2 linked regions of the Homo sapiens genome follow. The protein of the gene in region 2 interacts with the protein of the main gene of each other region in a pairwise test. Each region holds a gene or a part of one and is shown on either strand. Other genes may lie near its edges.

Region 1 (3,825 bases), on a different chromosome or scaffold from region 2:
CTAACCTTATCATCAAACTTTCAGATACAAAAACTGTTAACTATCTCAAATTAAACTAGACTTTTAACTTCTTCATCTGTATTAGTTAAAGTTAATTTATAAATAAACATGAACCTAAAATCCGTATGTTCTGTGCTATATCTGTCAATACAGAGTAGCTATTAGCCCAGGGTTTCTAAAGTTCAGCACCATTGACAGTTTGGGCAAAATACTCCTTTGGTTTTAGAGGAAAGGGGTCACCATGTGCTCTGTAGGAGGTTTAGCAGTGTCCCTGCCTGCTATGCAGTGCATACAAGTAGCTCCTCCCTCATTTTGACAACCAAATATAACTCCAGACATTGCTAAATATCCGTCGGAGAAAAAATTATCACCCAAAAACTGCTGCACTAGTCATATGTGGTTACTTAAATGTAAATTAATTAAAATTAAATAAAATTTGAAATTCAGTTCTTCAGTCAGTATCTGTATTTCAAGTGCTCAATTCCACATGTGACTAATGGCTTCCATACACAGCAGGGCAGATACAGAACATTTCCACAGAAAGTTCTATTGGATAGCATTGGCCTATAGTACAGGCTTATAGTTAACTGAAAGTAACTGTGGAACAAAAAACTATACTTTGCAGGAAAATTCTGAATTTTTCTTTTCTAAAAATATATTTCTCTACTCAGAACTAGTTGTCTAATTTCTTTTAGGCATGGTGTTTCACGTTTTAACTCCTAAATTATCTAAGAGTTGTATATAAGAAAATCAAAATTCGGCCAAGCACAGTGGCTCATGCCTATAATCTCAGCACTTTGGAAGGCCAAGGCAGGCAGATTACCTGAAGTCGAGAGTTCGAGACCAACCTGACTAACATGGAGAAATCTCGTCTCTACTAAAAATATAAAATTAGACGGGTATGGTGGCGCATGCCTGTAATCCCAGCTACTCGGGAGGCTGAGGCAGGAGAATGGCTTGAACCCGGGAAGCGGAGGTTGTAATGAGCCAAGATCACGCCATTGGACTCCAGCCTGGGCAACAAGGACAAAACTCCGCCTCAAGAAAAAAAAGAAAATCAAAATTCTATTTTAGAGGTAGAAAATTACCTAAATTTCTTAGTTTTATGTTTTCTTTTTGAAACAGGGTCTCACTTTGTCGCCCAGGCTGGAGTGCAGTGGCACAATCACAGCTCACTGAAGTCTCGACCTCGCAGGCTCAAGTGACCCACCTGCCTCAGCCCCCCAAGTAGCTGGAACAGTAGGTGCTCAACACCACATCCAGGTAATTGTATTTTTAGTAGAGATGGGATTTCCCCATGTTGACTAGGCTGGTCTCGAAATCCTGAGTTTAAGTGATCCATCCACCTGGGCCTCCCAAAGTGCTGGGATTACAGGTATGAGCCACTGTGTTTTTGAGCTTTAGTGTTTTTGTTTTTCTTTTTTTTTTTTTTTTTGAGTCTCGCTCTGTTGCCTAGGCTGGAGTGCAGTGGTGTGATCTCGGCTCACTGCAACCTCCACCTTCCGGGTTTAAGTGAACCTCCCACCTCAGCCTCCCAAGTACCTGAGATTATAAGTGTGTGCCATCACACTCAGCTAATTTTTGTATTTTTAGTAAAGATGGGTTTCACCATATTGGCCAGGCTGCTTGAATTCTTGACCTCAAGTGATCCATCTGACTTGGCCTCCCAAAGTGCAGGATTACAAGCATGAGCCACAGTGCCCGGCCAGCCCTTCGTTTTTTTTTATTAAAAGCAATAGTATCCTTAAATATTTTCAAATATAGGTTTTAAATTACAGCACTTAAAACTAGGTTACCAAAAAAAGCATTTGTAATATTGATATTTTTTAAATACAAAAATACTTTACTTCAGTACTCTATTAAAATGTTAATTTCACAGAAAGCAACCTAGACCAACAGAAACACTTTAATTTTTGCAGGTACATGCCACAGCCTGTACCTTCTCATAACTACCTTTTTCCTTCTCCTTTTTCTTTTACTCCCTCATTGCTCTCCACTCCCTTGTTCTATGCATTTATTTTGACAGTGACACCTAATAGCTGTAGTTAACCCCACTGGTAAAACTCACAACAACAACAAAAAAGCTATTGGGCCTATTTTTAAAATCGTCATTAGGGGCTGGGTGCGGTGGCTCATGCCTGTAATCCCAGCAATTTGGGAGGCCAAGGTGGGCGGATCACCTGAAGTCAGGAGTTTGAGTCCAGCCTGGCCAACATGGTGAAACCCCATCTCTACTGAAAATACAAAAATTAGCTGGGCGTGGTAGCAGGCGCCTGTAATCCCAGCTACTGGGGAGGCTGAGGCAGAACTGCTTGAACCCAGAAAGCAGAGGTTGCAGTGAGCCAAGATCATGCCACTGCACTCCAGCATGGGCGACAGAGTGAGACTCCATCTCACACACACACACACACACACACACACACACACACACACACAAATTACCTTTAATATATGAAAAAGCAGGCTGGGCACCATGGCTCACTCCTGTAATCCCAGCACTTTGGGAAGCCAAGGCAGGCAGATCACTTGAGGTCATGAGTTCAAGACCAGCCTGGCCAACATGTGGAAGCCCCGTCTCTACTAAATATACAAAAATTAAACAGGCATGGTGGAGGGTGCCTGTAATCCCAGCTACTCGGGAGGCTGAAGCAAGAGAATCGCTTGAACCCGGGAGGCGGAGGCTGCAGTAAGCCGAGATAGCGCCACTGCACTCCAGTCTGGGCAAAAGACGGAGACTCCGTCTCAAAAATACAAAAAAAAACAACAACAACAACAAAAGAAAAAGCATTTCTATGCCAAGACAACATTAGCATTTATATTATCTATTTTTTTAATTTAAAAAAAAACTGTTTTAATAAAATAGAGACAAGGTCTCAGTACGTTGCCCTGGCTGGTCTCACACTCCCGGGCTCAAGGGATCCATCCTCCCGCCTCGGCCTTCCAAAGTGCTAGGATTACAGGTATAAGCCACTATACCCGGGCAGCATTTCTATTATCTAGAAGTGTAGTTATTGATTCTTATACATTTTCAATTAAATATCCAACTTTAATGTGAAAACATCACGCCCTTAAAGCAAGCAAACTTTCAAAAAGACTATAATACTAATACACTACTCATGGTACCATACTAAACATTTTACGTATATTATCTCATTTAATACTAAAATCTTTATGAGGTGGGTATTATTTTCCCTATTTTATAAATGAGTAAACTGAGACTTGACCAAGTAACTTGACCAAGGCCTGCACAGCTGGTGACAGAATGGGAATCTGAACCCATTCTCTGAACCAAAGAATCCTAAGAGTACCAAATTGTGAGATGGGAGACATGCTGGTAAATACTGACTATAGCAACCCACAGAATTATGAATCTCAAGAGTAGAAAGAATCCTTCATAATGGTTAAGGAGTTCTCATGTAATGTTTTTAACTTTTAGCAGACTCTGGCTGAAACATATGGGGACAATTTAATATCTAAGGTAATAACATGATCTTATTGAAGGATATTAATCATTAAGTGAAAAAAGTTTATATAGATTTCACATTTTCTGATGTGACGCATCAACAAGTAACATTTCAGGACCACAGGACACTACAAAGAATGGCATCAGAACTTACAATTATGTCTCTCTCTCTCTCTTTTTTTTTTTTTTTTTGAGATGGAGTCTCACTCTGTCGCCAGGCTGGAGTGCAGTGGCACGATCTCGGCTCACCACAACCTCTGCCACCCGGGTTCAAGTCATTCTCCTGCCTCAGCCTCCCGAGTAGCTGGGATTACAGGCATGTGCCACCATGCCCGGCTAATTTTGTATTTTTAGTAGAGATG
Region 2 (3,613 bases):
GGCTGGGTGTGGTAGCTCATGCCCGCAATCCCAGCACTTTGGGAGGCTGAGACAGGAGGATCACTTGAGCCTGGGAGTTTGAGGCTGCAGTGATCTGTGATGGCACTGGTGCACTCTAACCTAAGTGACAGAGCAAGACCCTGTCTTAAAAAAAAAAAAAAGGCCAGGCGCAGTGGCTTATGCCTGTAATCCCAGCACTTTGGGAGGCCGAGGTGGGTGGATCCACGAGGTCAGGAGATCGAGACCAACCTGGCCAACATGGTGAAACCCCATCTCTACTAAAAATACACAAAAATTAGCTGGGTGTGGTGGTGCATGCCTGTAGTCCCAGCTACTTGGGAGGCTGAGGCAGGAGAATCACTTGAACCTGGGAGGCGGAGGTTGCAGCAAGCCGAGACAGCACCAGCTGCACTCCAGCCTGATGACAGAGGGAGACTCCATCTCAAAAAAAAAAAAAAAAAAAAAAAAGAATTAAGAATCCCCATGTGCATATCATTGTCTTGAAAATAGCTGGGATTGAGTTATCTTGCACAACATTCAGTCCATTCACATTGAAGCAGGACATGAAGCTTATAGCTTGCCTGATAATGTTAAAAATGTAAATCTAATACCTGTTGATAAATATAAATTCAATAATAAACCTTTAGTAATGTACTTTTCATTTTTTACAGGTGTGATGTGGTAGAGAGATTTGGTAAAAGTAAAGATGGTAGTCAGTGTGGAGAAACCTTAAGCCAGATTCGAAATAGTATTGTAAACAAGAACACTCCCGCCAGAGTAGATGCATGTGGAAGCAGTGTGAATGGAGAAGTCATAATGGGTCATTCATCCCTGAATTGCTACATCAGAGTTGATACTGGACACAAACACCGGGAGTGTCATGAATATGCAGAGAAGTCATATACACATAAGCAGTGTGGGAAAGGCTTAAGTTATCGCCACTCCTTTCAAACATGTGAAAGGCCTCACACTGGAAAGAAACCCTATGATTGTAAGGAATGTGGAAAAACCTTCAGTTCTCCTGGAAACCTTCGAAGACATATGGTAGTAAAAGGTGGAGATGGACCTTATAAATGTGAATTGTGTGGGAAAGCCTTTTTTTGGCCCAGTTTATTACGTATGCATGAAAGAACTCACACTGGAGAGAAACCATATGAATGTAAGCAGTGTTCTAAAGCCTTCCCTGTTTACAGTTCCTATCTAAGACATGAAAAAATACACACTGGGGAGAAACCGTATGAATGTAAGCAGTGTTCTAAAGCCTTCCCTGATTACAGTTCATATCTAAGACATGAAAGAACTCACACTGGAGAGAAACCCTACAAATGTAAACAATGTGGGAAAGCCTTCAGTGTTTCCGGTTCCCTTCGAGTACATGAAAGAATTCACACTGGAGAGAAACCCTATACATGTAAACAGTGTGGGAAAGCGTTTTGTCATCTTGGAAGCTTTCAAAGACACATGATAATGCACAGTGGAGATGGACCTCATAAATGTAAGATATGTGGGAAAGGCTTTGATTTTCCTGGTTCAGCACGAATTCATGAAGGAACTCACACTCTAGAGAAACCCTATGAATGTAAGCAATGTGGGAAATTGTTATCTCATCGCTCAAGCTTTCGAAGACACATGATGGCACACACTGGAGATGGCCCTCATAAATGCACAGTATGTGGGAAAGCCTTTGATTCTCCTAGTGTATTTCAAAGACATGAAAGGACTCACACTGGAGAGAAACCCTATGAATGCAAGCAATGTGGGAAAGCCTTCCGTACTTCCAGTTCCCTTCGAAAACATGAAACAACACACACTGGAGAGCAACCCTATAAATGTAAATGTGGAAAAGCTTTTAGTGATTTATTTTCCTTTCAAAGTCATGAAACAACACACAGTGAAGAGGAGCCTTATGAATGTAAGGAGTGTGGGAAAGCATTTAGTTCTTTTAAATACTTTTGTCGCCATGAAAGGACTCACAGTGAAGAAAAATCTTATGAGTGTCAAATTTGTGGCAAAGCCTTCAGTCGTTTCAGTTACTTAAAAACTCATGAAAGGACTCACACGGCAGAGAAGCCATATGAATGTAAGCAATGCAGGAAAGCATTCTTTTGGCCCTCTTTCCTTCTAAGACATGAAAGGACTCACACTGGAGAAAGACCCTATGAATGTAAACACTGTGGTAAAGCCTTCAGTCGTTCCAGTTTCTGTCGAGAACATGAAAGAACTCACACTGGAGAGAAGCCCTATGAATGTAAGGAATGTGGGAAAGCCTTCAGTTCTCTCAGTTCCTTTAATAGACATAAAAGGACACACTGGAAGGATATTCTATAAGTGTATGGAATGTGGGAAAGCATTCATTGGTTTTATCACATTCAGATACTTGAAAGAAATAAATCCTGTGAATGTAAACGTGGTAAAGCCTTAAGAAGTTTCCAGGCTGGGCGCAGCGGCTCACACCTGTAATCCCAGCACTTTGAGAGGCCGAGGAGGGCAGATCACGAGGCCAGGAGATCGAGACCAGCCTGGCTAACATGGGAAACCCTGTCTCTACTAAAAATACGGAAAAAAAAAAAAATAGCCAGGCATAGTTGCTCACACCTGTAGTCCTAGCTACTCAGGAGGCTGAGGCAGGAGAATCCCTTGAACCCGGGAGGTGGAGGTTGCAGTGAGCCGAGATTGCACTACTGCACTCCAGCTTGGGTGCTAGAGCGAGACTCCATCTCAAAAAAAAAAAAAAAAGTTTCCATTTCTTTCAAATAGAGTTGCTGCCTGCTATATGCAAGAAGATTGGTTCCAGTACACCCTGAGTATACCTAAATCCACAGATGCCAGCTCTTTTATAAAATGGAATATTCGCATGTACCTACCCACATTCTCCTGTATACTCTATAAATGTCTAGATTAATTAAAATATCTCATGCATTGTAAAAGCTGTGTACATAGTTGTATTGTTTAGGGAATCATAAGAAAAAAAATCTATATGTGTTCAGTACAGACCCAACCATTGCAGGCCTATCTACATCGTATATATCACCTATAATGTTACAGTTTCTTGTTTCAATACTCAGATTACTTTTGTCTAATGACCTGAAAGAATGTGTTAACACCAACCACAATTCTGGTTCTTCTCTCTTGATAACCCAAGTATTACGATGGTTATGACAATGATGATTGCTGTATGGTGCCTAATGTGATGTGTAGAGGTGACTAGATGTGTGGCATCATAGATAAACAGTGAGACCTCAGGCTAACTTGAATCTTGACAGGACATCAAGACCTTCATCTATGTTGGAAGACCCAGGTTCTGATTGAAGATGTTGACTCTTTGCAGGAGGCTAATACTAATGTCAGCATCTGTTCAGCTTGAGGGCTGAAGATGTTTGTGTTGAAGGGTATGTCTTCATATTTGCAGATATTTAGTTAGAAGCATTGTTTTAGGAAGCTAGTTCTTTTTCTTTGAATCCCTAAAAAAACCTTAGTGTTCATTAGCATATTTTCCCTTATATGACACAGAAGCTTTTTTCAATCAAAGGATGTTAGCTGAGGTTGATTATCTTTAACACTTGCAACTTGCAGAGGCTATAGATGCCCCAAGATCTGCTGCAAATTTTTCGCG

The links.
Region 1: the proteins of ZNF44 (region 2) and UPF2 interact in a two-hybrid assay, tested with the Homo sapiens proteins (one large-scale study listed by BioGRID).

The regions. Positions count from the first base shown.
Region 1 is NC_000010.11:12,035,985-12,039,809, forward strand, and holds part of UPF2 (regulator of nonsense transcripts 2), read right to left. Parts: intron 1-3,825. UniProt on the Homo sapiens protein: Involved in nonsense-mediated decay (NMD) of mRNAs containing premature stop codons by associating with the nuclear exon junction complex (EJC).
Region 2 is NC_000019.10:12,271,122-12,274,734, reverse strand, and holds the end of ZNF44 (zinc finger protein 44), read left to right. Parts: intron 1-669; exon of another isoform or gene 670-671; coding exon 672-2,328; 3' UTR 2,329-2,927; downstream 2,928-3,613. UniProt on the Homo sapiens protein: May be involved in transcriptional regulation.